Linked DNA regions of Homo sapiens: region 2 is reported to be linked to region 1. The links are microRNA targets in miRTarBase. Many come from high-throughput screens and were not tested one by one. Region 1 holds a microRNA gene; the other region holds the end of a gene's coding sequence.

Evidence for each region. The annotated mature microRNA hsa-miR-4657 reads AAUGUGGAAGUGGUCUGAGGCAU and lies in region 1 at 2,498-2,520, shown strand. An mRNA with a match to its seed (bases 2 to 7 or 8) in the 3' UTR can be bound and repressed. Matches are read on the target gene's strand: a 7mer-m8 pairs with bases 2 to 8, a 7mer-A1 pairs with bases 2 to 7 and ends in A, and an 8mer does both.
Region 2: miRTarBase lists UBE2D3 as a target of hsa-miR-4657. Seed matches in the 3' UTR shown: 7mer-m8 at 2,349-2,355.

Annotation. Positions count from the first base shown.
Region 1 is chr7:44,880,881-44,884,297 of GRCh38, reverse strand. MIR4657 (microRNA 4657) reads left to right here and starts at 2,498; the gene lies at 2,498-2,550. It overlaps PURB (purine rich element binding protein B), which reads left to right. Exons shown (of 1, transcript NM_033224.5): 1 at 1-3,417.
Region 2 is chr4:102,794,728-102,798,144 of GRCh38, reverse strand. It overlaps UBE2D3 (ubiquitin conjugating enzyme E2 D3), which reads left to right. Exons shown (of 8, transcript NM_181891.3): 8 at 685-3,417. The coding sequence ends at 730. All of the region lies in intron 4 of LOC102723704 (a long non-coding RNA gene), which reads right to left. Among named protein-coding and RNA genes, the nearest start is that of UBE2D3, 31 kb to the left of the region's middle.

The DNA.
Region 1 (3,417 bases):
GAGGGAAAAAACAAAACGTAACACAGTTAAGAGAAATAATCGTAAGAGAACAGTGACGGACAACTTGAGAAAAGCAGTCAAGTTCCAAGGAACTGACAGCAACCTGCAAAGAGGAAAACAGCATCTCCTCACCTGCGTAAAATTGTCTCAGCTTCTGTTGTTTCTCAACTGAGGTTCGTAAACCCATCAGGATAATCCCTGGAGGGAATAGATCCTTGCACATCCAGGGCAAGAAACATGTCCAAGTTACCCAGACCATTGATAACAGTTGCATTTAGGTTGCACCTGGGTAATCTGGCATAAAAGATCTCTCTAGGCCTCACTGTTGCGGTGTCTATCCCTTCACCTCCATTGAAATCAGCATTTTGGATCTAGGTCTTCATGGAATCCTTGAGAAGAGAGGCCTTTACAATTACCCAGTTCTGAGGGTTCAGGTTCACGAAAAGAAATGCAACTTGGGATAATCATGAACAGGTTAAAGATAAGATTTCAAGAAGCCATCTAAGAATACAGAACCAAATTGGATCCATTTTTTTAAAAAAATGGTTTTGCATGGAACCTGGACCAAGGCAAATGTCTTTTCTTCGCAGAATTGTTTTCCAGGATGCCAGTGGATTCAGATAGCAATGCTTGGAGTAGAATCCGTTACTAAAATAGTTTCAAAGTTGACAAAAAATTTTCAAAGATAAAAGCAGTTTTACATTGGGGGTTGCTGAGGTAGGCACAAGAAAAAGTCAGGCATAAAGCACAAGGCAGACTGTTTGAGTGGATTGGTTGCTGCTCACTAAAGTTGTTCCCCTGATCTCTAAATATGGAGGTCATTACCAAGAAATGCTTTGGTATGAATGAGAGCCAGATCTCCACTGTGTGAGCCAGTGAATTATGGCTAATTCGGCTGTTACAGCCACTGGTTGGCTGGATTTTAAACCATAAAACTTGAAGATTACCTACAAAAGTAACAGTGTGGCTATAAGCCTGAGCTTTAATGGATATACATCCTCACAGAAAAGTTGGAAATAACCAAAACTGAAGTCTTAATTTACCTTCAGTTTAATCTGTGGATTTGTTCAAATACTAAAGATCCTCAGGTCCAGAATTCCAGCATCATTTATTCTTTTAAAATTTTTAAGAACTTGATCCATTGTATCAGTACCTCACAATCAGAGTTGGCAAATGATGGATGAGTGATTCAAGCAGTGCACCCGGTGGAAGCTGAAATCCATCTGTGAATGGAACTGAAGTGAACGTGAATATGCTGACTATATCCTGGAAGCATTTTTATACCATCTTGAAATTTCAACAAACTGGCTTTTGCCAGTTAATCCAGCTGTCTTTCAAGAATAAAAGTTGGGGTTTTCAAGGATCGCCTCTTCTATATTTTAAATGGATTTTCAGTAGAAATGATTTTTACTAATCAAGTTAATCCCACCCCATCAAAAGGTATTCCTAGAAATGTCATAGACCTAGGTAACTTTGAATTGAATGGGAGCTAACGTTCTTTCCAAAGTTTTCAGGTATTCTTTGTGTGACACCTTCTCAACCAGGAGGCAAGTAACCCCGCCTCCACAATCTTAGTATTTTTTTTAAACTGCATGCCTGCCCCTTATTTGAGCTGCCTTTTTAATTTATTGCATATCCTTTTTATTATCTTATTTTGGTATTATTCAATCTATACAATCTTTTTGTATTTATTGGGAAATGAGTAATATACAAAAAGGTTTTCATGTATTTGTGGCTGAGAGGGCGGGAAATAATTGTGTACATAAAATTAGGCTTTTTTAAAAAAATAGATTATGATGCAGAATATTGTTGATCTTAGATTAAAAAGTGGAAGAGCCACAAACATTGGTGCCCTTTTCAGACTATTTCTCTACTCTCATCATCCACAGTAGAATTTTTAAACAGATTTTTTTAAAGCTTTTCTTTTAAATTTTTCTCCGTTGCAAAGAATGTTTCCTAAATTGTATGGGAGCAATAGTATTTTTGATGTTTTAATGACATCCGTATACTTGTACTGTATTTTGTACTACAAGGCAGCTGTTTTTCAATAATGTCCTGCTGTATTTACCTACGTGTTTTGAGTGTCTATTTCTTTGCTGCGGAGAACAAATTCCTAAATAGTTTTAGTAAAGGAGCTGAGAAGCTAGCATTAGGTTTGCAGAAACTATTTAAGTTTCAACTCTGAGGCAGCAATGAAAATTTAAGTTGCAGCTATTAGTTGATTGCTGTAACTTTTTCATTTTCAAACCATGTACAATTCTTGTATAGACCAACTTGTTTTCTTGCTTCAGTGGTGGTTCTGTTGCTCAGCTGCAGTGAGCCAGTTCAATTTTGCAAAGGTGCAGTACCTCTCCTTTTTAAGGGGTTGGTTTATTCTTTTTTCTTTTTGTTTGGCTGAATTGCAGTAACTAGCCTTGCCTTTCTATTCTGTAGAAATGACAGGGTCTTCACAATCCTTCACCAGTGGCTACTAAGCTATAATTAGCTGAATAGAAAGAATGTGGAAGTGGTCTGAGGCATATAGAGTATATGCCAAGAACACTACCATATATGGCATCAGCTTTGGTTACCAGAGAAATTTTCTTAGTCATTAGACCATGTAACAGTAATATATCATATGTAAATCTTTAGATATCAATTTGAAAATCCTCCAAAAAAAGGAGCAAAGAATGCATAAGCTATGTGTTGGCAAAAGTAATTTATATTAAAATTTTGACCTGCCTATGTAAGATTAAGTGGTAATGTCATAGTGGTGGGTTTTTAAGTCTTAACCAATCTCTAAGGTTTGTTTCTCCTGCAAGGGATGGTTCATGGCCTCTCTTCCCACTGCAGGAAGATTGCAGAAGGCTGTGGATTAATTGTAGCATTTCACTGATCTTCACTCCAGTCACTAGGGACAATAGAAACCTGCAAAACACAGATTCATTCGTAAATATTATTAATAGCTTATTAAAGGAAATGGTCTTTGTTAATTCCAGTCAGATAATGGCATTGTACAGACATGGGAAACAACCAATTTTTTTGTTTTTCAGTTGTTGCTATGAATGATTTTGAGCCTTTTTTTTTAAGCTTGGCAAACATCCCAGCTAATCAAAATAGTCATATTCCTGAGAAGTAGGAAACTAAAACTTCTTTTCATATAATTGTTAGAAGGTTTGTTTCCCAAACTACCATAGTTACAAAGGTGAAAAGCCAAATTTTAGGAACAGAATCAAAAGAATAAAAATCTGTGAAGAGATCCTACTACTCTTCCTTCTATGTTTTGGTTTTGGTTTCTATTGTCCCTATCATTTCAGCAAGTGGAACAGCAGCAAGTTTTTCAGTGCATATGCTGCACAAGAACAAAATATAAATCTGTATGGCACCAAAAATCAAAGTGAAAACCAAACCAAAAACCCAAACACCCTATGTAACTAT
Region 2 (3,417 bases), not on the chromosome of region 1:
CTGTTGATCTTTTTAAACGAAGATGCCCTTGTTGTACTCAACAGGTCTCAGTGGTGCTTATTAGCCTCAGTTACCACACTTATTAAAAGTAACACGTGATTCTGATGAACACAACCACTCACACACACACCCCTTTTGAAAATTACTGCCCTTTGTCATTCTGCCCAGTGTCATCTTCCCCTTCTGCCTCTACCTAAGTCCCAAAGCCATTTTTTCTTGTAATATCCAGGACCAAGTAATTTCCCAAACTCTAGGATTCAGATAAAATTGTTCTAGTAAAAGCCTAGTTCTGGCCTTGGTGGAAATTTCTGTGGATAGATAGAATGTGTATACTATTTTAACATTTGTCCATAATGAACTGTAAAAATTTCTTCACGTTAAAATTAGAGCATGAGCTCGGTGGTAGAGAAAGAAAGGGTCTTTTGATTTTTGTTAGCCTCCCAATTTTCAGTGCTGCTTTCTTAGTTGTTTTTAAAATACTACTTTCAGAGCATCAGGCTCTCATTTCCCACATTGCTTTGAGTACCAGTGCTATTTCTCCCTTGTTGGCTTTTATTCTAATCATAGTCATTAGAGATGACTTCATGATGAGTCTGGAGATGATAAAATGGAAATCTTTCCCTTCCATTTAAAGTATTAGGAATTCTTTATTTTAACTTTTAAAAATAACATCTTTATTTACAGGTACAACAGAATATCTCGGGAATGGACTCAGAAGTATGCCATGTGATGCTACCTTAAAGTCAGAATAACCTGCATTATAGCTGGAATAAACTTTAAATTACTGTTCCTTTTTTGATTTTCTTATCCGGCTGCTCCCCTATCAGACCTCATCTTTTTTAATTTTATTTTTTGTTTACCTCCCTCCATTCATTCACATGCTCATCTGAGAAGACTTAAGTTCTTCCAGCTTTGGACAATAACTGCTTTTAGAAACTGTAAAGTAGTTACAAGAGAACAGTTGCCCAAGACTCAGAATTTTTAAAAAAAAAAATGGAGCATGTGTATTATGTGGCCAATGTCTTCACTCTAACTTGGTTATGAGACTAAAACCATTCCTCACTGCTCTAACATGCTGAAGAAATCATCTGAGGGGGAGGGAGATGGATGCTCAGTTGTCACATCAAAGGATACAGCATTATTCTAGCAGCATCCATTCTTGTTTAAGCCTTCCACTGTTAGAGATTTGAGGTTACATGATATGCTTTATGCTCATAACTGATGTGGCTGGAGAATTGGTATTGAATTTATAGCATCAGCAGAACAGAAAATGTGATGTATTTTATGCATGTCAATAAAGGAATGACCTGTTCTTGTTCTACAGAGAATGGAAATTGGAAGTCAAACACCCTTTGTATTCCAAAATAGGGTCTCAAACATTTTGTAATTTTCATTTAAATTGTTAGGAGGCTTGGAGCTATTAGTTAATCTATCTTCCAATACACTGTTTAATATAGCACTGAATAAATGATGCAAGTTGTCAATGGATGAGTGATCAACTAATAGCTCTGCTAGTAATTGATTTATTTTTCTTCAATAAAGTTGCATAAACCAATGAGTTAGCTGCCTGGATTAATCAGTATGGGAAACAATCTTTTGTAAATGCAAAGCTGTTTTTTGTATATACTGTTGGGATTTGCTTCATTGTTTGACATCAAATGATGATGTAAAGTTCGAAAGAGTGAATATTTTGCCATGTTCAGTTAAAGTGCACAGTCTGTTACAGGTTGACACATTGCTTGACCTGATTTATGCAGAATTAATAAGCTATTTGGATAGTGTAGCTTTAATGTGCTGCACATGATACTGGCAGCCCTAGAGTTCATAGATGGACTTTTGGGACCCAGCAGTTTTGAAATGTGTTTATGGAGTTTAAGAAATTTATTTTCCAGGTGCAGCCCCTGTCTAACTGAAATTTCTCTTCACCTTGTACACTTGACAGCTGAAAAAAAACAACATGGGAGTAATAATGGGTCAAAATTTGCAAAATAAAGTACTGTTTTGGTGTGGGAGTTGTCATGAGGCTGTGTTGAAGTGACTTATCTATGTGGGATATTGAGTATCCATTGAAATGGATTTGTTCAGCCATTTACATTAATGAGCATTTAAATGCAACAGATATCATTTCAGGTGACTTAACATGAATGAATAAAAGTCAATGCTATTGGATTGTTTTTTGTTTGACAAGTGCTATCTGTGCCACTGATTTAACTTCTGTAGTAACAAGGGCATTACCATTCTTCACCTTTCCTAATTCTGATCCCATAGTTTTACATTTTTCCTGTTTATTTTGATTTTGTTCACTGCTTTATTTCTTAAAGTTCTAGCACATCTGTGACTCCTCCACTTCCACATTTTTGCACTGCTTACACTTACGTGCAATCTTATTCCTTGTCTGCACACACATGTGGAAAGCTAGAAATAAATGTTAAAACTTACTTTTTATAAACATTTTAATATGTAGTTTGGACATGATTTATTGACTTAAGGTTCTTCTCTAAACTGGAAGTGAAATGCATGCCTTCTGAAGATGTTCTGGCTTTGTTAATTCTGTAATCATTTCATTGGGGAAAAAACCAGCTACGCAGTTTTTCCAATGAGTGAATTTTTTCATTTTGTGTTTTGCTTAAAACGGCTCCTTCAGGGTAGATGTCATACTGCATAACTTTTTTGGATTCAAATTATGAATGAGAAATTAGTTAACATTCTGCTCCACAAGGTAAGAAAAACTGCTCTTTGGCTCTATTTTCAAAATTACTTCTGAGATGCATATAGTCTCAAAATAACAGCTTTAGTAGGCATATCACTTCTTGAAAGCCAAACATGAGTGTAAGACACTTTTATGAAACACGGTGGATCCCTAACTGGCTTTCAAATTGACCTTTATAGCCTTAGACAACCCTTAGGTATTTACGGAGATGACTTCTTTGATTGTCATAACAATTAGTGGATGTGTCCAGTTCTCTGTATCTTTGACTTGATGCTTTATACATCATTTCATTTGTTGCTTCTAAGGGAATAAGCCATAGAGGCTTCTCCAGGTTTAAAAGAACAGTAAAGTACCTGGAAAACCAACATTTTTGAATGTATGGACACTGGACATGAGATATGTACAATGAAATCTTAAAAGAATCTAAGAATTTGCCCTCTTTGCCCCACTCCACCCAGTAATTTGACATTACTAGTGCCATGTATAGGACCCAACTGAGTATTAGAATCAGTTTTGACTATGTCTTTGTATTTCCTAAATCTTTTAATGCATAAACCGAATTAGGGTCCAGTTGGCCTGTTAATGGTAAATTTACATTTTAAATGACTCAGTTTGTTTTTCCTGGGCGAGTTTGCAATGTGATAATCAGATTTTTTAAAACTGATTAATTTGCTTTCTTGTGTGGGTGTACTCACATTTTAAAGTAT